Homo sapiens: one gene and its partners. The protein of the gene in region 3 purifies or fractionates together with the protein of the main gene of each other region. This does not show direct contact. Each region holds a gene or a part of one and is shown on either strand. Other genes may lie near its edges.

Region 1 (3,847 bases), on a different chromosome or scaffold from region 3:
TGCTGAATATCAAATTCTAGGTAAACCGGTTATTTTTTCAGCACTTTTAAGATAGCATGCCAAGGTCTCTAACTTGCTGTTTAAGAAAAATAGGTAGCTATTCTTATCTTGGTTTCTCTGCATGAATGTACCTTTATTTTTTTCCTCCAGCTGCTTTTGCAACTTTCTCTGGTTTTCAACAATTTCATTATGATGTACCTTGATCAGACTTTTTTCTCTGTGTTACCTTGTTTGTTGAATTTCTTGTAATCTGTGGGCTTATAGTTTTCATCAACTAGGACACTTTTCAGCCATTATTTCTTAACATACTATTTTTGTTTCCACTACTCCAACTTCTAGGACACAAAATACAAGTATATTAGAATAGTTGATATTATCCCATAGGTGGCTAAGACACTGTCCTGTTTTTTTCTCTCTCTTTGTATCTTAGCATGCTTTTAAATTCACTGATTTTCAGTTCTGTAGAGACCTATCTGCTATAATTTCATCTATTCCTTCTTACCTAGCTAGTGACCAAAGAGGCCAAATAGCAGCAGTGATTAAAAAATAAATGAATAAATCTTACACATACTTAAAATAAAGGTATAAGGCCAGGCACAGTGGCTCACGCCTGTAATCTCGGCACTTTGGGAGGCCGAGACGGGCGGATTGCCTGAGGTCAGGAGTTCGAGACCAGCCTGGCTAACATGGTGAAACCCTGTCTCTACTAAAAATACAAAAAAAAATTAGCTGGGCATGGTGGTGCACACCTGTAGTCCCAGCTACAAGGGAGGCTGAGGCAGGAGAATTGCTTCAACCCAGGAGGTGGAGGTTGCAGTGAACTGAGATCATACCACTATACTCCAGCCTGGGCAACAGAGGGAGACTCCGTCAAAAAAAAAAGTGTAAATGTATTAGCCACAAATAAAATATTTAAGAACTATTAATTTAGAAATGTGTAAGTAGGCTGGGTGCAGTGGCTCATGCCTATAATCCTAGCTCTTTGGGAGGCCGAGGCAGAACCACTTGAGGAGTTCAAGACCAGCTGGGCAACATAGTGAAATCTCTATAAAAATTTTTTAAAATTAGCCAGCCATGCTGGTGGATGCCTGTAGTCCCAGCTACTCTGAAGGCTGAGGCAGGGGGATCGCTCAAGCCCAGGAGCTCGACGTTACAGTGAACTATGATCATGCCACTGGACTTCATCCAGGGAGACAGAGCAAGACCCTGTTTCTCAAACAATTTAAAAAATATATAAAGAAATTTGTAAGTAGTTTTTTCAATACCTTCTTTATTATGTCTATAAAATTATATGTAGCATTGGAAATGTTATTGAATATGACACCAACAACGTGCTATTGTATTTTTTAAATTTTGACTTCTTTTAAAGAAGGTGATAACAATCTGTGGAAAATGCTTTTACTGTATCATGCCAATATACTGCAAGGAGTATTTCAAAATAATATAAAAGTAATTCACAGACTTAGATTAAGTGAAGATCAAATGACCCCAAAATTTTTCTTCCTTAGTTTTTCACAGCAACTGCTAAAGTCCATAAGCTGATTTTTCCAAGAAAATTATTCTAATAATTTTGAGTGTTCAATCCGTGCAATGGTCCAGTCAGGCTTTACTCCTTGTGTGAACTCCCTCTGAAACCTAGGAAAGACATTGCAAATAATGTAAATCTTACATCAGTCCAAGTATGTGTTAGATAACTATGTAATTTGCAAGTGTATATTTAGAAGAATTTTTGGCAACAAGATAATGGTTAATATTAAATCAAAATCAAAACAAAAAAAAGTTTAACCTACCCATTCAATCACAATAAATATACCCACAAAATTGAAGTACATTCTCAAGTAATGTAAGTATTTTTAATGGACTAATCTATATTCAACATCTACCAGCCCCTAAGAGAAACTTGGATATATGTGTTATATAAATAACACATATAGCTAGTATGTGTTAAATACTAGCTATAACACATGCCTAATATGAGGACAGATAAACTGGACTCTGGTGATGCAAACAGCACTTTAAATACATAACCTAGGATACAGGCAAAAAGCTATTTTTCAAATAGCACTGTTACCAATTTAGGAATAAATAGTGGAATTTAGTTTACATACATTAAATCAATCTTGAAAATAACAATGTTTATGAAGTACCCATAGTCTTAGTAAGAAACATCAGAAAAGATAAAGTTTAGTATTGACGACAGTGCTCTTTAAAAATTATTTCTTAACAGGCAATTCAGTAGATTTAAATTAAGTATTTAAATATATAGAATATTTTGGGTAATTACAAATAAAGCAAAATTTAAAAAAACACATTTCTTTTAAGAAGAGCAAAAAAAAAATGAGGATATAATTCTCTTTTACCTTAGTAAAACAGAATACATTTTATTTCTTAGGTCATTTTTGGGGTTTGTTATTTTGAAGCAGATTTGTGTAACTCTGGCAACATATTTTTTTAATAAATGTTAAATTATATCTTCACTGACTTGCTCCAGCAGTTCACTGTTCTAGATTTTATTCGCATAAAAATACAATATAATGTCTCTTTTACGTAACTTGCTAACTTCCTACTATACAGTATGTGCTTAAGGGCAGTATCCCTTCAACTTTGTATCTGAACCTCTACCAGAGCATGTGGGCACACAGATGACCAACAGATGTCTAGTGAATAAATTGTTCATGTACCAATTATGGCAGATTTTATTTTCCAAAAATGACCACAACCATATCTCCCCTCCCATGTGCTCTTCTGCTATGTGGCCTTGCTGGTTTTTGCCCCAAAAAATGGGGGAGTCTTTCTACACCCTTTAAACTATACAGATCCTTTGACTGCTTTGACAAGTAGACTATGGCAGAACTGATGTTCTAATTCTGGGCATAGCCCTTTACTGGTTTAGCAGCTTCCATTTTCTGCCTCCTAGAATTCAACCACTATATGAAAGATATGACTAGTCTGAAACTACCACAAGTCCAAGCCACAAAGAGTGGCCCTGGAGAATACAGAGTCATGCAGAAGCCAAGGAGTACCAAGGTGCCACCCATGCGAGTTAAGAAGTCACTGTGGAAATGAATCCTCCAGCTCCTGCCACTCGTGTTGATGCCAGGTGAAGCAGAGAAAACCCCCTAACTGAGCCTATCCAAAATTTCTGAGCAGTGAAATAGCAGGCAAAGTCAATGGCTGTTTGAAGCCAATGAATTTGGGGGTAGTTTGTTAAGCAGCAATAGACAGCTAAAACATCATTTAATTAAATTCAGCAACTTTACCTCTTTCTAATTTCTTAACTCTCCTGTTTCATATCCAGTGTGTCTTTCTGACCTTTTCTCTTCATAAATAACTTGTCAAATTTCAATTCTTTTCTTCCTAAAGATCTCTTAGTTTTCATACCTTCACACTACCTTCCATTTTCTGAAGAAAGGAAACAATGAAATCTGATTAAACTTACTCATAGCTTGCACTAAGAAGTTGTTTAGTTTCCACATTCTGATTCCCCAACTTAACCTGGAATACACTGGCTCCTCTTAAAGTTTCACTGGGGATGTTGGCACTGGTTAGATACCAAAAGCACATCAGGATGTTAACAAACTTCCTTCCTTAGAGAAAAAACATATACACACATACGAATACAAATCAAAATAATCTATCATCCATATAAACAAAATGAAATCAGAAATTGGCAGCAGTTATACAGTTGTTACAGGTCAAATTTTGTGCTTATTCTGATGTGACTTAAAATACTTGTATTGATACTATTTTATTTTTAGAAAATTGTCTTAGGGTTTATGGCATACTTGCCCTCTTCTCTGTATCTCAGTAATAAAACTACTACTTAACTGAGCACGTACTTTACTAA
Region 2 (4,329 bases), on a different chromosome or scaffold from region 3:
TGCCATTAAAAATGCATTGATCCAGCAATTCCACTTCTAGGAATTTATTCTATAAATATCAATGCAATAGTATTTATAACAGTGAATATGTAAAGAGTCCATCAATAAGAAACTATGACAGCTATTACTTTTTTGTTCACCCTACAACATTCTACTCCCTTTGTTCTGATAAAAGTACCTCTTTCCCCTAGAAAATTCCTCCCCCATTTTATCTGGTTTAGGGATAGTCATAGGACCAAAGCCAAATCAGTAAGACTCTTTCCCTCATATTTATATTTAGAGATGGGGCAAAGAGGCTCTCTTTACAATGAGGTTATTAAAGTGAGAGACTGTTAAGTTCAGGGCTGTAAGCAATCAGCTTTTCAGCACAGGGTAAGAATCTGTCTGCAAAGTTTAAAAATGCACTCGTGAGACAGACTCACTCACAGACACACACACACACACACACACACACACACACACACACACAACTTGTATATGTCCTGGTGATGCTGAGTCTACTTTGGTAGTACTAAGTTATGGTTTCAGAACTTGAGGTTCTGGTTCATGCAGTTGTTCCTTCACTCCTGTTCCTTCATCCTGAGCTATTCTTCCCAGCTTCTGCAGCCAATGACCTTTCCCCTAAGCTAGTTTGAATTGGACTTCTATTATTTGCAAGGAAAATAGTCCTTATTAATATAAGCCTAATTTGCAGGTTAAGATGGTACATTAAACACACATATCTAATTTCCCTCTTTCCCTAAATCCCAATAAACCATAGTAAAGAGATGTACCCACGCCTGGGCAACATAGCAAGACCTTGCCTTTACTAAAAATAAATCTAAAAAAAGTAGCTGGGCATGGTGGTGTGCACCTGTAGTCCCAGCTACTTAGGAGGCTGAGGCGGGAGGATCGCTTGAGCCCCGGAAGTTGATGCTGCAGTGAGCTGTGATCAGACCACTGCACTCCAATCTGGGCAGCATAGAGGAAAGAGAAGGAAGGAAGGGAGGAAGGAAAGAAGGAAGGAAGGAAGGAAGGGAGGGAGGGAGGGAGGGAGGGAGGGAGGGAGGGAGGGAGGGAAAGTAAGGGAAAGGAAAGGAAAAAAGAGAAGGGAGGGAAAGGAGGAAAAGAAAAAGAAAGAAAGAAAGAAAAGAAAGAGAGAGAGAGAGAGAGAGAGAAAGAAATTCATAAAGACCCAAATTTTAGAAAATTAGAAAGTAGACAGATGAGTAGAAACTAACTTAGCAGAATTTAAAAAGATAAATCCTAAACAGTGGGGAAAGCTGAGAGCCAAAGTGATTACACTGCAGAATCCTCAAACGGATCTGCAACTGGGGATGGATACTAAGGTTATGGAGGACTAAGTAAAAACTGGTTGAGAAATAGATCTTCCTCCCTGCCTACTCATCTCCTTTCCATCTGCAGTAGAAATCCAGAGGTTAATCTCTGGAAAGGGTAAAACAGAAAGCCTTTGGATTACGAGTTGACTAGTAAAGTTGAAGGCATGGGCACTATAATCTAAAAATAGTACTGTCCTGAAAACAGCTGAATGAGAAGCCACTCAGCCACCTTCTACCACTTAGCTCTAGGAATGCTGGCAGCCAGTCCTTTCGTTTCAGGCAGGAGATTGGAAGAGCACTCTCTGGGGAATCTCGCTCACAGACGAGGAAAACCAAAAGGATACTTAAATCAAGGGTTCCCCAACAAAAGGCCCACCCACATCATTCAATAGTACTGCTCAAAGTCAACAAACCCCACCTATATATTCCATGCAGAAACCCCACCTATATATTCCAAACTGTCAATCACCTTTTTCATCCCCAAATAAAAAAACTACAATGAAGAATTACATGACACCTAAGAAAAGCCTTTAACATGCAGAACAGAGACCACATAAAAAGAAAAATAACATGGAGAAAACAGAGAGGAGATATTTACAACCCATGAAACAAGAGGATATTATGTTTTAAAAAGGACAATTCAAAAACCAAAAATGAACTTTTAGAAATTAAAACCTTGGAGTCTCTGAGCCTTCTCTGGCATGAAAGACTGCCTGATTTTAAAAACTTTAAAAAAAGAGAAAGAAATTAAAACCTTGATGGCAAAATAGAGAAGACAGAAAGATAAAGGTGCAGAAATCTCTCAAGAAGGAAAAGACATACAGATGAAAAAAAGAAGAAAAAAAACTTAAATGGTCTGTCCAAGAGGTCCAATGTCTGAATAATAAAATTCCATAGAAAACAGAGGGACGAAACAATTAATGACATAATTGCAGAAAACTTCCTGAACAGCCAAGGTTTCTAGATCAAAAGGATCCAACAAGTACCCAGAAAAATGAAGAAAAATAGACCCACAGAAAAGTACTTCATAGTTTTAGAACCTTTAGAACAAAGGGAAACTCTTACAAGCTCTGGCAAGGCGGAAAAAAAAGATGACATACAATAGGATCAAAATCTGAACAGTTTAGGATTTCTCAAAAGCAACACTGAATGTAAAATAAGAAAAATTGTTTCCAACTTAGAATTGTATTCCCAGCCAAACTATTAATCAGGAGTGAAGCTACAATAATTATATTTTCAGAAGAGAAGGATTAATAAAATTTATTTCCTATACACTCTTTCTCTGAAATCTACTAGAGGATGTCCACCAAAACAAGAGAGTAGACCAAGAAAAGGAAAGATGTGAAATTCATTGAAGACTATCATCACCCATGCCCTCTAGTGTTGTACCAGCTTTTTAATCTGCTAAAAGTACAGAAGGATGTACTACTGTGCAAGGAAATAAACCAAGAAATATGAGAATATGAGAATCAAGAAACAGAAAAGTCAACCCTGGAGAAAGGACAAAGAAATCTTAAGGATGATAGGAAAGTTAAGTCCCAGGTGACAGTTCTGTAGCAGATCTGCAGAGCAATAAGCCCTGAAAGAAAAATAGTGCTCTTCAGAAAAAGTGTCTCCAAAACAAATCAGAACTGATAAATTACTTAATCATTAAGTTGTTTGATGTGGTGAGGCTACTGAAAGGTGTGGGAGGAATGAGCAAGAAATACAAAAAAGCCCCAAACACATGAAAAGCAAACGCAATTATTACCCTTAGGAAAAACAAAAAGAAATAAAACTGCTCAGTTATAACTAATATTTGCATAAGCATAATCACGTAAATACTAAATACTAATTTAGCAGAGTCGACAGGTAACGTCTAAAATAAGTGACTAAAAATATAACACCATACTCTTGTTCTTAGAAATACAGGTGTTTTTAGGCTGGGCGCAGTGGCTCACGCCTGTAATCCCAGCACTTTGGGAGGCCAAGGCAGGCGGATCATGAGGTCAGGAGTTCGACACCAGCCTGGCCAATATGGTAAAACCCTGTCTCTACTAAAAATACAAAAATTAGCTGGGTGTGGAGCACGCACCTATAGTCCCAGCTACTCAGGAGGCTGAGGCAGAAGAATCACTTGAACCCGAGAAGCAGAGGTTGCAGTGAGCCAAGATCATGCCACTGCACTCCAGTCTGGGTGACAGAGTGAGACTCCATCTCAAAAAAAAAAAAAAAAAAAGAAAAGAAAAGAAATACAGGTGTTTGTTGTTTTTTTTTAAATTTAATTAATTATTTATTTTTGAGACGGAGTCTTGCTCTGTCACCCAGGCTGCAGTGCAGTGGCGCGATCTCGGCTCAATGAAAACTCTGCCTCCTGGGTTCACGCCATTCTCCTGCCTCAGCCTCCCAAGTGGCCGGGACTACAGGCACCTGCCACCACACCCAACTGATTTTTTTTTTTGTATTTTTGGTAGAGACGGGGTTTCACCGTGTTAGCCAGGATGGTCTCGATCTCCTGACCTCGTGATCCGCCTGCCTTGGCCTCCCAAAGTGCTGGGATTACAGGCGTGAGCAACCGCGCCCGGCCAAGAAATACAGGTGTTTTTAAATGCCAGAATAAATAACTGAAAAAACTGAAAGCCTTTAGGGAAGAAGACTGAGGATGGGTAGGGCAAGGAACAAGTATATTTTATTATAAGCCTTTTGGTAGTTTTGAACCAGACATAAGTTACTTTGCAATAATAAAAATATAATATAAGCCTTATTAATAAATGATGCTCTACTCAGACTTTAAAAAAAAAAAAGCAAAATACACAATTAATGTATTGATACATATTAATGTATTGATGTAATATTCGTGATACGGCCAGGCGCAGTGGCTCATGCCTGTAATCCCAGCACTTTGGGAGGCCAAGGCGGGTGGATCACCTGAGGTCAGGAGTTCGAGACCAGCCTGGTCAACACGGTGAAACCTCGTCTCTATCAAAAATACAAAAATTGGCCAGGTGCGGTGGCTCATGCCTGTAATCCC
Region 3 (4,111 bases):
TCGGCCCAGCTGCTGCCGCACTGGAAGGAGACGCACCGCTTCATTGAGGCTGCAAGGTCGGTCTCCTGGCTTTGCTGCCTGCCCCACTGTGGCTTCAAGCGGCCTCCGGTGCCCTCCTCCTGCCCACTCTGCCATCAGCTGTGCCATTCCTTCCAGCCCTCAGTGTCCTTCCCTCCTTCTCTACTCTCAGTTGGTTGTGAGCCCTTCACCTGCCCTCCCCTGCAGGAGGCGGGATCCTTCATGGTGAGGGGAGGGTGCTGAACCTGGCCTGCTTCCACAGAGCACAGGGCACCCACGTGCTGGTCCACTGCAAGATGGGCGTCAGCCGCTCAGCGGCCACAGTGCTGGCCTATGCCATGAAGCAGTACGAATGCAGCCTGGAGCAGGCCCTGCGCCACGTGCAGGAGCTCCGGCCCATCGCCCGCCCCAACCCTGGCTTCCTGCGCCAGCTGCAGATCTACCAGGGCATCCTGACGGCCAGGTATGGGATGGGAGCGAGTGGCAGGGGGTGAGTAGGTGGGTTTGCTGGGGGTGGCTGCTGGGTCACTCAGAGCTGACTCAGGGCCACCTCCTCACAGCCGCCAGAGCCATGTCTGGGAGCAGAAAGTGGGTGGGGTCTCCCCAGAGGAGCACCCAGCCCCTGAAGTCTCTACACCATTCCCACCTCTTCCGCCAGAACCTGAGGGTGGTGGGGAGGAGAAGGTTGTAGGCATGGAAGAGAGCCAGGCAGCCCCGAAAGAAGAGCCTGGGCCACGGCCACGTATAAACCTCCGAGGGGTCATGAGGTCCATCAGTCTTCTGGAGCCCTCCTTGGAGCTGGAGAGCACCTCAGAGACCAGTGACATGCCAGAGGTGAGGCTGGGGCTGGGGGAGCTCAGCTTGCAGGGGTGGGGGCCATAAGGAGGGAGATGGGGAAAGACCAGGATGGGCGTTTGACTGTAGACCTGAGCAGGGCGTACCCGGGCTAAGTCTGGCCCGCCCATGCAGGGTGTCCTGGGAGGACCCAGGGGGCCTGGTCCCAGCCTCCTTCACAGTCAGCCCAGTATCTCTTAGCACCCGGCGTCTCCAGCCTGTCCCATGAATACCCCTGAAGATGGGGACCAGCCACGTCCTGGGCCCCTGAGAGCAGCTGAGATCCAGTGAGGGCAGGCGGAGGCACTGTAGGCACAGGCTGGAGAGGGGTCACGGGGGCAGGGCAGGAAGCAGTGCCTGTTTCCAAGGCTCCTGGGTGAGCCAGCCCCAGCCTCGATCGCGGGCAGGTTCCAGCCTGACCACAGGACTAGCTGTCTCAGGGGCAGGGCTGCCTCCCCAGGCCATGAGCTCCACAGGCCCCTGCAGGCCCTGGGGGCGATCTCTAACCCCATGGTGGGGAGGCTAAATTAATCTCTGAAGCCCCTCCCTGGTCTGAGGAGCAGCACCTCAAAGGATGGGGTGGGGAGGAGTCTGCGCACTCACGCCGCCCAAGTCCTGCCTAAGTCAGCACCCTTGATGCTCAGTGCTGCGGGCACAAGCCTAAGCCTGGGAGCCAGGCCCTGTCTGGGACTCAAGGCCAAATGGCTGACTTGGAGGAAGGAGCATCCACTGAGGGCAGGAACATTTGGGAGAGGCTTCCTGGAGGAGGTGTGGGTGGGGAAGGATAGGGAGGCGTGGTGGGTTGATGGGCGGGTGTGGGCGTTGCTAAAGGCAAGAGGTCCTCACCCAGCACCGGACGCACGCATCCACCCAGCCCAGCTCAGGGGCTGGTGCCGGCACGGGTTTCACCTGCCGGCTGCCTACGCAAAGGCAGAGAAAGCATAGGAGGGGAGGAGGGCAGGGAGGCCTGGGTCTCCAGGGAGCTGAGGAGGGCTTCTGGGGGCCAGAAGGAAGCTACAAGCAGGTAGGGTTCAAGGAGCGGGGCAGCAGGGCTGGGGTGTTGTCCTCCCTCCCGAGGAAGCGTGGCTGTGGACAGCTTGGCTTTTGGCGTGCGTGCCACAAACATTCCGGCCCTCGCCTCCTCCTGGCTCTGTGCTTGGCACCCCTGCCCCAGATCTTCCCGGCTCTGTGCTTGGGCACCCCTGCCCCAGAAAGGCCTCCCATGGCTTCCGTATCCTCACACCTGTCCAGGTCTTCTCTTCCCACGAGTCTTCACATGAAGAGCCTCTGCAGCCCTTCCCACAGCTTGCAAGGACCAAGGGAGGCCAGCAGGTGGACAGGGGGCCTCAGCCTGCCCTGAAGTCCCGCCAGTCAGTGGTTACCCTCCAGGGCAGTGCCGTGGTGGCCAACCGGACCCAGGCCTTCCAGGAGCAGGAGCAGGGGCAGGGGCAGGGGCAGGGAGAGCCCTGCATTTCCTCTACGCCCAGGTTCCGGAAGGTGGTGAGACAGGCCAGCGTGCATGACAGTGGAGAGGAGGGCGAGGCCTGAGCCCTCACACATGCCCACGCTCCCCTGACACTGAAGAGGATCCACAACTCCTTGGAGAAACACCCTCACGTCTGTTGCCGCACACATTCCTCTCAGCTCCGCCCCATACCCGTCACTACAGCCTCACCTCCCACCCCTGTCACTACGGCCTCACCTCCCACCCCTGTCACTACAGCCTCACCTCCTACAGCCTTAAGTCCCAGGCCCATGTCTGCCTGTCCAAGGGCTCAAGACTTTCTAACTGGGATGTGGTAGAGGGACTGAAGGTACCTTTGGGGGCAACAGCACCCTAGTTTCATTCTCAACTCTAGCCCTGCACACTCACCTGTGGCACGGAATGAAAACAGAGCTTCCCGTGCAAAAAGGGTCACGCCTCCCACCCCCGCCCCCTCCCTGCACCTCCTGTCCTCTCCCAGTTCATTCCTGGAACCAGCCAGGCCAGGCAACCAGTGGCCCCCAAAGGCAGGCAGGATCCTCAGGCCCCAGCCGCGGGAGGCTGGAAGGGCTGGCAGATCGCTTCCCTCATCCACCTCCACCGGTCCAGGTCTTTGCTGCTGTCCCCAGACCTCCTGTGACACCACGCCAGATCACAGGGCACCAGGCCAGAGATAGTCTTCTTTTTGTCCTTTCTGGCCTCTGGCTAGTCAGTTTTTCATAGCCTTACAGTATCTGGCTTTGTACTGAGAAATAAAACACATTTTCATATTTGGTTATTTTCAATGTGACGATGAAGCCATCTGTGTTGCAGTCAGACCCTTCTCTGCTGGCTGGGGAAGGTGGCCGCCCCTTCCTCCCAGCAGTCTCCTCACAATTCCAAGGTGGCTCGTGACAGACCTATTTGGGGGAGTGCCGTGTTTGGGCGTGGCGTGGGAGGAAGATTGGGTAAGAGAAGAGAGGAAGTCAGTGCTATCTCCCCATCTCCTGGGGCAGGGCCTGGTAAATATGACCTGCTCACACCCACCCGCTCAGACAGGTCGGGCAAGGGAAGAAGTCGTCAGCGGGCAGCAGGCATGTGGCTCCACTGTGAGAGCTGGAAGGGGTTACTCATGAGGAAGTGCCTACCTGGACAGGACCAAGCCTGTTCCAAAAGCGAAGCCTCCTTGGGACACTCGGCGCCAGGTTCTCTGGCATGTTTTGGGTCCCAAGAATCACCTTCCTCCTGCTACAAAGCAAAGGGCCTGACTTTCCAAGCCAGGCTATTGCGGCCTGGGAAGAAGGACCCTTGGTGACACTTCCCCTCCTGCCCAGGGGTTCCTTCTGCTCAACTTTAGTGTCCAAGAAGAGTTAGTCATTCCATCTTTTTTTTTCTTTTTTTGAGACAGAGTCTGGTTCTGTTGCCCAGGCTGGAGTGCAGCGGCACGATCATGCCTCAGTGCAGCCTTGAATTCCCAGGCTGAAGAGACCCTCTCACTTCAGCCTCCTGAGTAGCTGGGACCACAGGCACACCTAGCTAAGTGGTTGTATCTTTGTCACTTCCTTTTTTTTTTTGAGACAGGGTCTTGCTCTGTCACCCAGAATAGAGTGCAGTGATATGATCTTGGCTTTCTACAGCCTCAACCTCCCGGGCTCAAGGGATCCTCCTGCCTCAGCCCCTGAGTAGTTGGGACTACCTACATGTGCCATCATGCCTAGCTAATTTTTATCTTTTATTTTTTGTGGAGACGGGGTTTTACCATGTTGCCCAGGCTGGTCTCGAACTCCTGGGCTCAAG
Region 4 (4,329 bases), on a different chromosome or scaffold from region 3:
GCAGCTACAAGGGTATTTTAGGCCAGACAGACCTTAGAAAGCAAGGTATTTTCCTGAGGCTTAATCACTTATCTTGCAACAAGAATATTTCCAGCTGCTGATTTTAAGTCACATGAGAGCAAAGAGTTCTTATACCTTAATAAATGCAGAAATAAGAGGAGAGAGCTACCATCAAGAAAGACTTAGACTCGTTCCCTACATTTCATTTCACCCTAAGGTAGCTAATTAAACGGGACCACTTGTTTTAGAAAGGTGTAGCCAATTACTACAAAGAGTCCATTATACCAGTGGCCTTCAGTTGGGACAAGCACGCCCCTGGGGAAACAGGAACACTGTCAAGGAGTACACTGAGAAAGGTCAGTCAAGAGAGAATCAAATTCCAGATACTCAGTTCCACATATAGATTTTTCCAAAAATTGATCTTCATAAGAATGTACCTCTGGCCATCAAGGCTTTTTTCCCATCTCCCCCCTTTCACAACTGCCCTTGTCCCACTTTATAAAAGAAAGGCATATTTTCAACCATTTTGAAACTAGAGTGTAAAAAGCTCCAAGATAATGAAAAAGAAACAATTAGAAATACTAGTGTCTGGATGGGCGTGGTGGCTCACACCTGTAATTCCAGCACTTTGGGAGGCCTAGGCAGGCAGATCACCTGAGGTCGGAGTTTGAGACCAGATCACCTGAGGTCAGGAATTTGAGACCAGCCTGGCCAAAATGGCAAAACCCCATCTCTACTAAAAATACAAAAATTAGCTGAGCATGGTGGTGCGTGCCTGTAATCCCAGCTACTCGAGAGGCTGAGGCAAAAGAATCACTTGAACCCAGGAGGCAGAGGTTGCAGTGAGCCGAGATCATATCACTGCACTCTAGCCTGGGCGACAGAGCAAGACTCCGTCTCAAAAAAAAAAAAAAAAAAAAAGAAAAAGAAATACTAGTGTCAGTCTTGAGAATGCAAATGCCTGAAAAAAAATGAATAAATTCGTTTGCATGTCAAAAGGTTTTAAATTCTTTGCTTTAAAAAAAAAAACCTTGAAAAATGGCCTAATTGAGTTTTAGCTAAGGGATCATTAAACATAATTTTTGGGCTGGGTGCAGTGGCTCATGCCTGTAATCCCAGCACTTTGGGAGGCTGAGGCGGGTGGATCACTTGAGGTCAGGAGTTTGAGACCAGCATGGCCAACATGGTGAAACCCCGTCTCTACTAAAAATAAAAAATAAAATTAGCCGGGCGTGCTGGCCCACACCTGTAATCTCCAGCTACTGGGGAGGCTGAGGCAGGAGAATCGCTTGAACCCCAGAGGCAGAGGTTGCAATGAGCCGAGACCGTGCCTGTGTACTACAGCCTGGGTGAGAGAGAGAGACTCCACCTTGAAACAAACAAAACCCATAATTTTTGATGATAGATTACATGATTTCTGGCATGTAACTCAAAAGGAGTTCCAAGAACTAAGCAATATTGCTATGACAAATCTTCCATCAACTTATTTACTAATGTAAACAAGGTCTGTTAGTACTTCCTCTAAAAAATAAAAATTAGGAATTGGTGCTGAATCCCATTTCACTCTAGGGATAAGTAATTGTCATCCATGGATATGAAACTATTTGAATAAAAATGTGTCAAAGAAATGCATTTAAAAATATATAAACATAAAACGTCTGTAATAAATGTTATTTTGTTCAATTGTGTATTAATAATTGTAATAGTAACTTAACACAGAAGACTCTAAAAACACTTAAGAGCCATATCACAGAACACCATTTTCCATATTTCAATTTACATACACAATGTTCTTGCAAATAAGAATGTCAAAGTGACTAAGGCTTCAAGATAAAATATGTCAGAATATAATTCTGTTGAGGAAGTAAACTGCAAATGAATCTAACAAATAGAAGGCTGACTTGTGAGTTTGAGATCAGCCTGGACAACATGGCAAAATCCCTACAAGAAATACAAAAATTAGCCAGGCATGGCAGCATGCACCTACAGTCCCAGCTACTCGGGAGGCTGAGGCAGGAGGATGGCTTGAGCCTAGCAGATCGAGGCTGCAATGAACCATGATCATGCCACTGCACTCCAGCCTAGGTGACAGAGTGAGACCCTGTCTCAAAAAGAAAAAGAAAAAAAAGAAACAGGAGGTCGGGTGGCTGATGTCTGTAATCCCAGCACTTTGGGAGGCCAAGGCAGGTAGAGCTCTTGAGCCCAGGATTTCCAGACCAGCCTGGGCAATGTAGGGAGACCCATGTCTATAAGAATAATAATAAAAAAAATCAGCTGGGTGTGGTGGTGCTCTTCTGTGGTCCCAGCTGAGGTGAGAGGATCACTTGATCTCCCCACCTTGGAGATCGAGGCTGCTGTGATTGTGCCACTGCACACCAACATGGGCAACAGAATGAGACTCTTGTCTTTTTAAAAAAGAAGAAGAAGAAGAAACAGGATGCGTGTAAAATGTCCAAGTTGGTTAACAGTTTATTCATTTATTTTTTTAAGACAATATCATGTGGTGACTGATAAGTAGTATAAATATCCCCAAATCCCTATAAATTTAAACAAAAAAAAGGGCAATTAAGTGATGGTCACATTGTTGCTAACCAAACGCCATAACTAAAAAAAAAAAAGTACCAAAGAAACATTTCCTTTTTAACTATTATGAAATGTAAAAAATTACGGATATTTTCTTATATACCCACAATGCCACTTTCATATTTTACAAAATCAATTCCTTGGTATCATCTAATACCCAGACTGAATTTAAATTTCTTGATTATCTTTTTAAAGTTGTCGTGTCCAAATTATTCATATGAAAGACGGCAGGTAAGAAGTTGCTATGGTATCTTGTATTTAAATTTTATAGATTTCTTTCCGAATTACTTTCAAAATGTCAATGCTTATCACCAACAGAGATTATTCTTTTTTCTTCTGAGACAGGGTCTTGCTCTGTTGCCCAGGCTGGAGTGCAGTGGTACAATAACGGTGCACTGCAACCTCAAACCCTCAGGCTCAAGTGATCCTCCTGAGTTGCTGGGACTACAGGCACACGCCACCATGCCTGGCTAATTTTTTCTTTTTTTTTGTATTTTTTGTAGAGACAGGGTTGCGCCATGTTGTCCAGGTTGTTCTCAAACTCCTGGGCTCAAGTGATTCACCTGCCTCAGCCTCCCAAAGTTCTGGGATTACAGGAATGAGCTACGGCATCCGGCCCAACAGAGACTATTCTTTACAACTGTTTAAATTTCTTAATTAAATATTTCAGATGCCAACTTTAAAACACATAAGGGAATGCTGTTGGTCAAATTCTTTCAGGAGTTATTTAAGTGAACAAGTCTGAAAATGCTTGAGTTATACGACATCTAAGTTAAGTGTACCTGCATTGCATGTAAGGTATGGGAAAACACCTAAAGAGAAATCTAAATAGTTCCTGCAAGTTCTAAGCAAAGGTAATTATTTAGTCAGTGCTGCCATTTTCCTGACCTTGAGGGTTAAGGGTAGAAGTACTCCTCTGTCTTAAACTCACAAGAGAAATTCCTCACAGCAGGACTTGCCAATTTTTTCCCATGCTACAGCACATTCAGAAAATGTAGTTTGTACGGTCCACTGGATCAGGTTCCTGCCCTAGCTGTCCTGAAAGCCAAGAAGACTTACTCACAGGATACAGATTGGAAAGTTCTGAATTAGGAAATAGACACATGCTTAAAAGATATGGTTTTAAAGGAAGCTAGAATACACAATACACTACAACGTAAGCGCATTTTAAAGCTAGGTGACCATGATAAACTATTTGAATTTCTATTTTTATTTATTTTACTTTATTTTTTTGAGACAGAGTCTTGCTCTGTCGCCCAGGCTGGAGTGCAGTGGCGCGATCTCGGCTCACTGCAACCTCCGCCTCCTGGGTTCAAGCGATTCTCCTGCCTCAGCCTCCTGAGTAGCTGGGATTACACAGGCACATGCCACCACACCTGGCTAATTTTTATATTTTTAGTAGAGACGGGGTTTCACCAGGTTGGTCAGGCTGGTGTCTAACTCCTGACCTTGTGATCCGCCCACCTCAGCCTCCCAAAGTGTTGGGATTACAGGCATGAGCCACCATGCTCGGCCGAATTTCTATTTTTAAAAGACTCAGTCTATTTGATGATTTGAAGGTATTATTAATTTTCTTGGGTTGACATTATCTTTAAAAAAATGTTTTTAGAAACACATATATATTTTAGACATATATACCTCAATGTTTACAGATGAAATGACATAATGATTGGGATTTACTTCAAAGTAAGAAGGAAGCAAGGAAGTGGATGTGGCTGAGAAAAAACTGGCTGTAAGTTGATTGTT
Region 5 (4,329 bases), on a different chromosome or scaffold from region 3:
CCTGGCTGGGCCCCGCCCACCTGCTTGGCCAGTGAGAACTGGATAGTGTGGCCAATGGCAGACAGACAACAGCTGTCATCAGTGACCAAGAAGAGTCCTTGTAGTGTGGTCAATAGAAGACCTGTGGCAGCTTCAGTCACCATGTATACCTGGCATGCTGGCAGTCAGGGCAACCCCCTTCAGTGTGCCTTCCTCACTGTGCCTGAGAGAGTGAGCCTGCCCCAGCTCGCCCAGGGTGAGGCTTGGCCACTGCATCTTTCTACCACCCACATCCCCTAATACTGTGTTCTCAGTAGACATCTGCTTAGTGGAGAGGCCTGTGAACACTGCACCCATCTTCATTGTTTTAAAAGACATTTCACTACGTGTTCAAGTTTAAAATCTAAAGTGTTTTAGAAACAAATTTTTCATCAGTTTCCTAACAGGATTTTGTTATGCTTTTAACTTAATTATTTATGGGTCTAAAACTGTTCAATTCCGTAATGAGTGTCTGTTATGTAACTAAAAGGGAAACACTTCAAACTTTTGTTTTCACTTAACTTTTCGGAAACACTCCTAAGTCAGAAACTGAAGAAGAATTGTACTGTCTACCCACAGCAGTCAGTTAACCTTTGCTAATTTCTCCTACAACTTATCCTAACAATAAAAATTGGTACTGCTATTAGATAAACAGATGCTAGGGCCAGGGGAATGGACAGGGCTGGGCTTCCCGCAAACAAGGTGGCACCACGCAAGGCCTGCAGTTCTTCCAAGGTGGCTAACAGCACCTGTCATGCAATTCCCTGCACTCTAAGACCTCTTCAGAAAGGCCTTGCCTGTCCTGTGAGATTACTTAGTGCTACTCAGGGGGAGCAAGGAAGGTGCCCCAGCCAGAACTCTCTCCATCACCTCCCTAAGGCGCTATTGAAGATAAGTGGATTTAGAGGTTAACAGGTTCTTATTTGAGAAAGAAAAAGCTCTTTGCAGGAATGATCAGTTTAAATACACTGCTTATCTTTTCATCCTTTCTTGAGGATTAAGATCAAGAAAGGGAGTGAGTTCATGGTGGGGGATGGGACAGGTCAGGGAAAGCAGGCTAGAGGGGCCAGGAACCTGGGAGCAGGGGCAGCATGAACCAAGACGAGTTTAGATCCCAGCAGAACCCGACTGTAAGCTTCCTGAGGGGCGGGACCACGTCTTCCTCATCTTTGCATTCCCAAGTATGGGGCCCCGCACAAAGCAGATACTCAGTGTCTGCTGACGTGAAGAAAAGTTTCCGCCAGGCCAACAGTCTCTGACTATCTCATACATCATTTCTTCTCTCTCTTGCTGAAACCACTGTGAAGGGCACACCAGTTTCTACCATAAATTTGGGAGTCTTTTTTCTGCATCCTCCATTTGAATGTCAATTCCTATGGCAGGGACTTATTTGTCCCGTTTTATACTAAACATATTCAAGGAATATGCATCTTGTTATGACATCTCTCCACTCATTTATAACTTTTAGGCTGGATCATGCTATATTCATCTAATACATCATCGAATGTATTAATTCAACTTCTGCTGTGGCTGGGAATGAAAAGAATGAAGAGACAATGGAGGAAGCTGAAAGCGGATCAGAAGGTCGCTGTCATGGACAGGCAGGCACAGCAGCGGCCTCAGTGCTGCCCTCCCTTTCCTGCCAGGCATCCTCTCAGCTCACTCTCTTACCTCTAAGTATTTCCTTAAATTGCACCTTGGCGAGGAAGCCTGCTCTCACACCGCCCATAACACAGCAAACTCCTGCCATCACTCCCAAACCCAATGCCCCTCGTCCAGCGATCCTCCTTTCCAACAGCATTTATATTGTAACACACTATATAACTTAACATGTTTATTGTCAGCTCCCCAAGGTGGGATGTGACTCCACCAGCACCAAGAGCTTTGTTACTTATTCCCAGCACCAAGAATAGTACCTGGCCGAGCAGGTACATAAGAAATACTTGATGAATGAATGAAACAGTGAAAAGAAGACATAAACTTAATCCAAAAAGCCTAACCAGAAATGTTTTTAGCAACAGATGTAAAATTGAGAAATTCTTTAGAAGGTGGAAGCTGGGTGAAGGAAACAAAGGCTTCACAGCTGTAAATTCTCACAGAATACTCCTAGTTTGGGTAAAGAGAAAGGTGCTTGGTTTTAGTTTTACTCTGGGAATCTTGCCCCTTTGCCACAATCAGCTCTCATTTGGGTCACACCAGGAAAAGCAAGACTTCCATGTACCTTGTTCTCTGGGAAGGAAGAAATGAAACATCAATGAAGAGATACTGAGTGCAACAGAGACAAACAAGAGACACAGAACTGCTGGTCTAAGTCTTCCTCAGTTCACAGAGGTGCAGAGTGGTGGAAAATGCTTTGCCTGTCCCCCACACTGGGATCTGGGGCAGCTGTCTCACCTCTCAGAGCCTATGTGTCTTTAGAAGTGGGGAAAATAACCTACCGCATGAGGTCTACATGGGCATCCAGTAGGATAGTGGTGACAGAAGCCTCTACATAGATGTGCCGGGTGGCACATCACCAGCATGACCCCTGACCCTCACTCCTTCTTTACTCATCAGAGCCTTCCTGTCCCTCCAGACCTGCTGACCTCCACAGCACAGTGAGCTCCTCTCCTGAGTGGACTGAAATTCCCTGAAGACAGCAAGTAAGCCTTTTGCTTATTTTCTGTGCCTCAAGGTGCTTGGTACTAAGTTGGCAACCAAAGAAACGACAAGAACATTTTCACCACAAATGTATGTCCAGATACCAAGGCACACTGTGCTTCATCTGTGCTACTCTTAACCGTATGGCTTATACTCCAGAGACCGTGAGATCCCTGTTCACAGCTGCCCTGCACACATCAGCAGATTCAAATCTCTTTACCCTTGCTTCTGCTGTTCCTTCTGCCTGGACTGCCCTGCCTCCGTCCTTCTACTCTGGACACTCAGATATGCTCAAGAAACCTTCCTCAACCTTCACAGGCTGGAAGGGTTCTCCTGCAGGTTCCCACAGCATTCTGTGCTCCCCTCCACCATTCTACCTACAGCACCTAAAACTGCATTGGTCAAATGCCCTAAAACATAAAGAACTGACTAGGTAGATTACGGTATATCCATACGATGGAATAGTGTGCAGAAAATAAAAAAAGGAAGGGTGATTACAATAAAGTACCATTTCAGCAAAAAGAAAAAATAGGAAGAAATACATGTGAACATTTACTTGTTAATACGCGCAAAAAATATCCTTGGAGAATACATCAGAACTCACACTAGTGGTTGCCGCTGGGGAGGAAACCTTTCACTGTGTATGTACACATACACTTGTAACTTCTGAATTTGAACCATATGAATAAATTACCTATTTCAGTTAAAATAAGTAACATGGTACAAGTTGGTCATCTTCACTACGCTGAATTCTGTATGGGCAAGGACAAAGTCTTATTCATCCAGGACACCTACTTTAGCAACAGGCATGTAAACAGGTACTCACTAAATGTTTGCTGAATTGAACTAAACTTTTGAAAATAATCATATTATTTTCATGCTCTTAGACACCAGTTCTATCGGAAATCCTACATTTTCATCATCTAAGTCTGAAACAGATGGGGTTCTACTGATCTTTAAACAGGCCTCCCAGATTGCTTCCTGAAAAGACTGTACTGACTCAGGAAAAGGGCCGGAAGCACATCCTCTTAAAAGCACCTTTCAGACTGACCAAGCAATGTGACAGAACAGAAAGATACAGGTTCTAGTCCCAGGCTGGCCCCAAACTGTCCCTTCAGGTCACTCAGCCTCCTGCACATCTCAGATGAATCTATGAAGTAAGCTTCAACCTGGCTTCTAAAGTATAACAATGCTGCCGAGAGAGCAGTGCTGACAACATCTAAACTATCAGACAATCCCAAAATGTCCTCTGGGAATTTTTTTGGCAGCTAAGACCTTTCAAGGAAACCCGGAATTCTGATAACACATAAATACATCAACATACTAGAAAGCGAAGGAATATGGTAGTGGTATGATGTAGAATCTTGCTTCTTTCCTCTTTTTCTTTCTTCCCAATCTGGAACCAGGTGAAATACAAAGTACATAAAGGAATATTTAAGGATGAAAAATGGGGCAATAAACAAACAGATAAAGGCTAACAATATTATTGGGTTTTTTCTTAGCAGTGTTTCAATGGGATTAAATTCATCCTCTACGGGTCTCTAGGTAGCTGATTAGAGCAGTGCCTCTCAAGTCGCCTGGGGGCTTCCTAGAATCACAGGCAAGCAGTCCCACACCTGGGCACTCTGATGCGACAAATAAGTAAGGCATGGTCCACAGCCACAAGGAGCT
Region 6 (4,329 bases), on a different chromosome or scaffold from region 3:
AAACCACATTAACATATGCACAATTAGGAGAAAAGAATGGTTCAGAACATGTTTGTTGAACTCACCTGGCATTTAGTAGACATTAATAAATAAATTAATGGACTGAATAAAACTGCTTATCTAAAATATGAACTCCTTAACTAAAAGAGCAAAAGAAGGGACCAGGTATTCTCCATTCAATAAATCTTTGAAGTTTACTGCATAATAATATGAACTAATTTGAAATATCTTGTCAAGAAATTCACTCCATAGAGATTCCTAGAGGGCACGAAAAAGACAATTTCTGAAAATGCTTTTAGGCAAAGGACATGATAAAAACAAAAATTAGAAATTTGGAAATAGAATACATTCTCATATTAAGCTCTCAAATCAATGTATAGCTGAAACTATGTTAAATTTTTCTACATTTTTTCTAATTAAGAAAATCACAGAGCATGGAGTAAAGCAAATAAAAACTAAAAAAAATTATTACTTACACCCTCATAAAATCCTTTTAGATATATCTTCTCCTTTGCTTCTGCAAGTTTTTCCCGGTCATTCTGGCTCTGAATTTTCAACTCATCACAAATGGTTACAGCAGAAAGATTTCCAAAACCTGGGATTTCAATGACTGGCACCTGCAGCAAACAGCAATCAGGAACGTGTTCACACTGACTGGACACACAGCTCTGTAGGGCACAAGTCCTTTTGCCTCTAATGTCCAATTAAGTCATTTCAGATTGTATATGTCATTACGACACTGCCACACATTAAGTAATCACAGAGTGACTAACTTCCAGATGTAAATTTGTCCTTCTACTCTCCACAGGAACCACCCATACTCTGTGTACCAACACCCCCAATGCCCTTCCCCCACCACACACACCTTTCCCAACACTCTATCCTCCACTGGCATATAATTACCTAAGTAATTCATACTGAAACTAGCAAAATGATGTAAACCAGGGGTTCCCAACCCCAAGGATGTGGACCGGTACCAGTCCATGGCATTAGGAACCAGGCTGCACAGCAGGAGGTGAGGAACGGGCGAGCATCACCCCCTGAGCTTCACCTCCTGTCAGATCATGGGTGGCATTAGATTCTCATAGAAGCACGAACCCTATTGTGAACTGTGCATGGAGGGATCTAGGTTGCTTGCTCCTTATGAGAATCTAATGCCTGATGATCTAAGGTGGCACAGTTTCATGCCAAAACCATTCCCCTACCACACCCTGCTGGTCCATGGAAAAATTGTCTTCCACAAAACCAGTCCCTGGTGCCAAAAAGGTTGGGGCCTGCTGATGTAAACAACTAGATTCATGGATGGTTGTGCTTTTGGTTTATATTAATTCCTCTGGATCTTTCATGAAATGAAAATCATTTGCTAGTAATTTAAAAGTTTTTCTTCTATAGATACTAACATGAAAATACAAGAAACATAAAACAGAGTTGTACAGGACTTTGTTAAAGTTATTATGGTTACATATAAACATTCATGAAAAGGGCAAAATTTTATCTTTAGAAGCCAGGAAATTGATCACACTAGCAAAGCAAGCTACTATAAAATTGGTGATGCTAAAAAGCTATTTGTTCCAGAACTGCAGGTGCCAGGTGGTAAGAAAATGCTTGTTAGTTTTCCTTTTGCTCTTATCTACCATAGCAGGTATCAAATTAAAGTGAGTAAATCCTTAAGCAAACTCTCTTTTTCATACTCCACCAATTAATTTTGTTATAAGGAAAACATGTTAGCTCTTCTTTTTCTCTGATAAAGAGATGGATGTGAATATTCTGAATTATCTATGTACTCACCGGCTCAAATGGCAAGACCATGTCATCTCTAATTCCATATTTTGCTCGTAAGGCCTACAGAAAAATTTGCAAGTTAACACTAATGATCAACACTTTACTGGGAGAATCATTGAGAGAAGCAATCTCCAAAGTTTCTTAAAAGTTTCTTTAAAGTTTCTATTTGTTCTCCTCTCCATAGAGAGCAATTTTCTAACTTTGCCAAATATCTCAAAAGGGATCTGTAACCTTCAAAAATTTAATAGCTAAAGTTATAGTGAATAGCCTAAATGAAACCACACAACCAAAAGCAAAAATGTACATAGACATACACATATCACTTAAATTGAGGTTCATATGCCAGATTTCAATGAAAATGTGAATATCAGAAAGCTTTTTCAAAATTCTGTGAACATATTTAAAATTCAAACCACAGAAAATATATTAACATCAAGAAACAAGTTAGAGATAGCAGTTTAAAGATAAATGCATAGCTTTTTAGCCTAGTCCCACAGCGTAGTTCAGCAGCACCTAAGCAATGAGATGGTGAGGACGAAATACAAACATGAAACTCAGATACTTACTTGCTTTTTCTTCAAGTCTCTGAGGGCAGCAATATCATCAGGGGAGTCGGAAGGAACACTTGTAACCACACCAGTGCCTTAGAAAACAAAGTGTGGAATTAATAACTAGAACCAAAATGTGTTTATCAAAATATTTCTAGAAATAAATAAACTCTTTACCTTTATCCTCCTTAATAGTTAGCATTGGGAGAACATAGATCACCTTGTATGATGTTAAAGGTGCAGAAAGTGATGCACCAAGAATTTCCTGCATAAGAAAAAAATCAATATAAAAGGTGAAGTAATTCATTGTGACCATTAGAATTAAAACTATGTTAATATTTTAAGCCCTGAGAAGCTAGTAATCAAAAATATATGGAAATAAATTCAAGAGCTATATTGTACAATATGGTGACTATAGGAAATAACAATGTATTTTATACTTGAAAATTGCTGTGTAGATTTTTTTAAGAGACAGAGCCTTGCTATGTTGCCAAGGCTAGAGTGTAGAGGCTATTCACAGGTGCTATCATAGCATTCTACAGGCTCAAGCTCCTGGGCTCAGGCAAGCCTCCTGAGGTCCCAGCCTCCCAAGTAGCTGGCTCTACAGGTGCATACCACTGCACCTGATTTAAATTTTAACTCTTCTCACCACAGAAAATGGTAAGTACGTAAGGTATAAATTTGTTAATTACCTCAATTTAGCCATTTCACAATGTATATATATTTCAAAACATATTGCGTACCATAAATACAATTTCTGTCAATTAAAAAATGAATACAGGCTGAGCGCGGTGGCTAACGCCTGTAAACCCAGCACTTTGGGATGCTGAGGCAGGCAGATTGCCTGAGCTTAGGAGTTCGCGACCAGCCTGGGCAACATGGTGAAACCCCGTCTCTACTAAAATACAAAAAATTAGCCAGGCGTGGTGGCATGCGCCTGTAGTCCCAGCTATTTGGAAGGCTGAGGCGGGAGAATTGCTTGAACCCGAGAGGTGGAGGTTGTAGTGAGCCAAGATCGTGCCACTGCACTCCAGCCTGGGTGACAGAGGGAGACCCCGTCTCAAAAAATAAAGAAAAGAATATAAATAAAATACATATGAAGTAAAACAAAACACATTATTTTATACCTACTAGAGGAAAAATAATTTTTTTTTTGAGATGGAGTTCTGCTCTTGTTACTCAAGCTGGAGTGCAATGGCATGATCTCGGCTCACTGCAACCTCCGCCTCCCAGGTTCCAGCGATTCCTGCCTCAGCCTCCCATGTAGCTGGGATTACAGGCATGCACCACCACGCCTGGCTAATTTCTGTATTTTTAGTAGAGACAGGGTTTCACCATGTTGGCCAGGCTGGTCTTGAACTCCTGACCCCAGGTGATCCACGCACCTCTGCCTCCCAAAGTGCTGGCATTACAGGCATGAGCCACCGTGCCCGTCCCGGAAAAATAATTTTTAATAATTATAATAACTAAATCTGTCAATATTATGACATGAGTACACTAATACATTGTTTGTGACATTGTACTCCTTGAAGAAAATATAGGAATCCACAGCAAAAGCCACAAAATGTTCATGTAACTCAGACTCAACAACAACTAATTATTTTTTCTTAAACAAGTCTACCCAATGCTGAGTTAATTATACTAGGAAAGCCTGGAAACAACTAAAGCTTTCAATGATAGAAAAAATGATTTAACAAAATATGTTACAAGAACAAGAATGGGTACTATACATCTATTTAAAATAGTAGTTATGAAGACAAAGTAAAAGGATAGTTCTAATTTCACTTGAAAAAATCCAAAAGATTAAGCAATTTTAGACCCAAATTCTCAGATGGCAACAAAGAATTTGCAGCTTCTTGCTCTAGCTAAGGAACACACTTTTCCTTTCCACATAATTCCCACCCACCCCTCTTTATTCATATATGTACTTATAACCTGCCTTTATAGAATTTGCAGTCATATGGATGACAGCTAAATATTATAACCATTTTAAATGTTG
Region 7 (2,966 bases), on a different chromosome or scaffold from region 3:
ATAGAGCCCTAGAGCTAGTAGTACAGGACCGGGTCCTTGCTCTTGATTGGATATTTGATCTAACTCCCCTCTGCTTTCATCTTTGCAGGATAGAGTCTATATTTTAAAAATGTGTCCTCATATGGATATACCTCCATCCCCTGATAATTTTGGCTGTTCTCTGGACCTTTCCTCCCTTTATCATATATCTTGTAAATAAGGTCACTAGAAACACAGATAATCCGATCAAGACATATCCATGGTTTTGTATAAAGTGCTGTTCTCTGTTATCTCCAAAAGCCCTTCCTGATGATGCCCACAGGGCAATTAGGCTTTTGGCCACAGCAGCACATTGATCTCTCCTCCCCCTCAGCAATGCTTGTTTCTTTCCTGAGTTCTAACAGTGTTCAGGCATATCAGTTGATAATTCTTCCATAAATACATTTCCTTATATTATGTTGAACCTCACCTGTCAGTTTTCTGAGTATTCTCAGCCCTGCTTATTAGTAACCCTTCTGTGGTTTTGTGTTTGTTTGTTTGTTGTGAGACGGAGTCTCACTCTGTTGACAGGCTGGAGTGCAATGGCGCTATCTCGGCTCACTGCAACCTCTGCCTCCCGGGTTCAAGCGATTCTCCTGCTTCAGCCTCCCGAGTGGCTGGAACTACAGGCACCCACCACCACACCCAGCTAATTTTTGTATTTTTAGTGGAAACAAAGTTTCACCATGTTGGCCAGGATGGTCTCGATCTCCTGAACTCGTGATCTCCCCGCCTCGGCCTCCCAAAGTGCTGGGATTACAGGCGTGAGCCGCTGTGCCCGACCGGTTTTGTGTTTTTTAAACCTCTTCTAGATTACCTTTCACTGCCTGGAAGTAGTGACATTTGATTTCACTGTAAAATCCTACTTTCAGGTCATTTATAAAAATTTTAAATAAGGTTGAACCAAGCATCAAGCCTTAGGTAACTTCCCATTAGCATCTTCTCCAGAAAGATGTTTCTTTGTTCCTAAGTCTCTATTTCTTAAGCATGAAAAATTCCCACCATCCCATAGTAACTGGTGTTTCAAAAATTGCCTTAGTAAAGAAACTTAACAAAAGTCTGAACAAATTGGGTCCTGTTCCTTGGTGAATACATTTTTTTTTTCTAGTCAAATGAAGTGTTGAGAGTGGAGAAGGAACAAAGAAATCTATGATTGGTTGTGATCAATTAGTTGTAAACACCACTGCAATTACATGTTTCTTTTTATCCTCATCAAACTAGAGTATGCAAGTCAAGCATAATTTCCCATAGAAGAAACCTTTTTACCTTTCCTTCAGTATGGAAAGGTGAATGGTCGAGACTTTAGTAACATCACTAAGTTACTATTTTACCATCTTGCCAAGTAAAGGTAAGTTAGCTGATGAACGTCTGTCCAATCAACACAGCTTCAAGTGTATCACAGGGCAGTATGAATGAAGGGATGGTGTTGGAGAAGAATTCAAAGGAAAGAAAGGGGGAAATAGCTCTCTTATAGGGCAGGGGGCAAAACCTAGCTGGGATGAGGGATTTTTGTGTTTTTTTCACTTGAGTCAAAATACATGAGTTTTAAAAGCCACAGTGATGGAGGGAAGTGAGAGGCAACAGGTTGAGTTGTTTATGTAAAAGTTTAAAACATATATTCAGCTCCCAAACCACCAAGGGCTGAGGAGAGAACTGGTAAGGTCACAGAGCTGGGAAAGCAGATGTGCCAGGGACCCCAGGGAGACAGAAGAGCCACTCAGCACAGCTGGGAAAGACAAGCAGGACTCCAGGCGGACAACAGGGGGCTCAGAAGCAAGCTCCCCCACTGACCCCTGGCATATCATGCCACCAACCTAGCTCAGCGTCAGAAATTTTTTCTTGATTTAAATTTCAAGTAAGTTGTATTATAGAGGGGAAAGATTAAATGACTGAGCCACTACTGTTATTTACTTTCTACCACAGCATCACAATGATGAAAGTATAACAGAAAGGAAGCTTAACCTGGAAAAATCTGATTGTGTTATCAGCCAAATTGCTATGAGCTTGGTTCCTTTTCCCAAAAAGGCAGAGTCCAGGTCTCCCTTATTCTTGTGCCTCTCCTGCCCCCTTCCCCCACACTCCTCTGCTGGACTATTTCCTGTTCCACTCCACTACCATGGCCAAAGCTCAGGTCATGGACTTTTCAGGTCTGCTATGGGAAGCTCTGGGACATGGAATCTTTGGTGGCTCTGTGGGTGACCGAGGAGGTGGGTACTTTTGCTTGTTCACACAGGCCTGTGAAGGAAGCAAATGTCCCTGCCATGAAACCATGAGGTGAAATGGCCCTACAGTGTTGAGAAGATTCCACCTAGTACACAGAGGACCAAAAGGCTTTATACAGGCAAGACATGATGCTTGTGCCACACACAGGGCAAGCCCCAGTTTCCTGGGATACAATCATGCTTTGCCCTTGTCCTCAGTCCAAGTAAGAACAGCTAGTGGAAAGCACACCCACACAAGTGAAGTGAGTGCTCCCCAGTCCCTCTGGCATCCGTAGTGACTTATTCAGCACTGGACAGTGCCCTCTGTCCTAGGTGGTGCTATTGCTGGTGATAGCCTCTCTCCTTGGCACAGATGGCTGAGCCACTGGTTTCAGAGCTCAAAGAAGGGGTTATATTTCCTAATCTCCTGAAGAAGTTTTTCTTTATCCTGGTTGGCATTGGCCAAGGCTTGTTTAGTTTCTATAAGTTCTTTTTGTAGGATAGGCAGTTCTTTCACCTGAGGAACAATAAGTAGTTAACAGTTAAATACGGTAATACCATCTTGCAACAACCGCCAGTAAAGGGAACAGGGAGGAAGAGTTCAAGGAGAAAAATCCACAAGTTATGTCAATGATTAAGATAACCATATCTTTTCTAAGACCTTGATTCCCTCTTCATAGTTCATTGGCAGGTGCAGTATGTCCTCAGCAACCATTCGTCTCCAGCTCCTGACATTTATCCTCTAGT

The links.
Region 1: the proteins of SSH3 (region 3) and MAIP1 purify together in Homo sapiens (affinity purification with mass spectrometry, with the first as the bait; one large-scale study listed by BioGRID). This does not show direct contact.
Region 2: the proteins of SSH3 (region 3) and SLC4A1AP purify together in Homo sapiens (affinity purification with mass spectrometry; one large-scale study listed by BioGRID and IntAct). This does not show direct contact.
Region 4: the proteins of SSH3 (region 3) and CALU purify together in Homo sapiens (affinity purification with mass spectrometry, with the first as the bait; one large-scale study listed by BioGRID). This does not show direct contact.
Region 5: the proteins of SSH3 (region 3) and KIAA0232 purify together in Homo sapiens (affinity purification with mass spectrometry; 2 studies listed by BioGRID and IntAct, with this or other methods). This does not show direct contact.
Region 6: the proteins of SSH3 (region 3) and LARS1 fractionate together in Homo sapiens (co-fractionation; one large-scale study listed by BioGRID). This does not show direct contact.
Region 7: the proteins of SSH3 (region 3) and BLTP3A purify together in Homo sapiens (affinity purification with mass spectrometry; one large-scale study listed by BioGRID and IntAct). This does not show direct contact.

Annotation. Positions count from the first base shown.
Region 1 is NC_000002.12:199,961,521-199,965,367, reverse strand, and holds the end of MAIP1 (m-AAA protease-interacting protein 1, mitochondrial isoform 1 precursor), read right to left. Parts: intron 3,588-3,847; coding exon 3,440-3,587; intron 3,403-3,439; exon of another isoform or gene 3,261-3,402; intron 1,636-3,260; coding exon 1,557-1,635; 3' UTR 1,251-1,556; downstream 1-1,250. UniProt on the Homo sapiens protein: Promotes sorting of SMDT1/EMRE in mitochondria by ensuring its maturation.
Region 2 is NC_000002.12:27,670,131-27,674,459, reverse strand, and holds part of SLC4A1AP (kanadaptin), read right to left. Parts: intron 1-4,329.
Region 3 is NC_000011.10:67,309,488-67,313,598, forward strand, and holds the end of SSH3 (protein phosphatase Slingshot homolog 3), read left to right. Parts: coding exon 1-56; intron 57-280; coding exon 281-481; intron 482-578; coding exon 579-852; intron 853-2,103; coding exon 2,104-2,400; 3' UTR 2,401-3,105; downstream 3,106-4,111. UniProt on the Homo sapiens protein: Protein phosphatase which may play a role in the regulation of actin filament dynamics. Can dephosphorylate and activate the actin binding/depolymerizing factor cofilin, which subsequently binds to actin filaments and stimulates their disassembly.
Region 4 is NC_000007.14:128,763,018-128,767,346, reverse strand, and holds part of CALU (calumenin isoform a precursor), read right to left. Parts: intron 1-4,329. UniProt on the Homo sapiens protein: Involved in regulation of vitamin K-dependent carboxylation of multiple N-terminal glutamate residues. Seems to inhibit gamma-carboxylase GGCX. Binds 7 calcium ions with a low affinity.
Region 5 is NC_000004.12:6,865,917-6,870,245, reverse strand, and holds part of KIAA0232 (uncharacterized protein KIAA0232), read right to left. Parts: intron 4,055-4,329; coding exon of another isoform or gene 3,983-4,054; intron 1-3,982.
Region 6 is NC_000005.10:146,151,386-146,155,714, forward strand, and holds part of LARS1 (leucine--tRNA ligase, cytoplasmic), read right to left. Parts: intron 2,596-4,329; coding exon 2,508-2,595; intron 2,426-2,507; coding exon 2,349-2,425; intron 1,843-2,348; coding exon 1,789-1,842; intron 618-1,788; coding exon 477-617; intron 1-476. UniProt on the Homo sapiens protein: Aminoacyl-tRNA synthetase that catalyzes the specific attachment of leucine to its cognate tRNA (tRNA(Leu)).
Region 7 is NC_000006.12:34,872,083-34,875,048, reverse strand, and holds part of BLTP3A (bridge-like lipid transfer protein family member 3A), read right to left. Parts: intron 2,737-2,966; coding exon 2,611-2,736; 3' UTR 1-2,610. UniProt on the Homo sapiens protein: Tube-forming lipid transport protein which probably mediates the transfer of lipids between membranes at organelle contact sites. May be involved in the retrograde traffic of vesicle clusters in the endocytic pathway to the Golgi complex.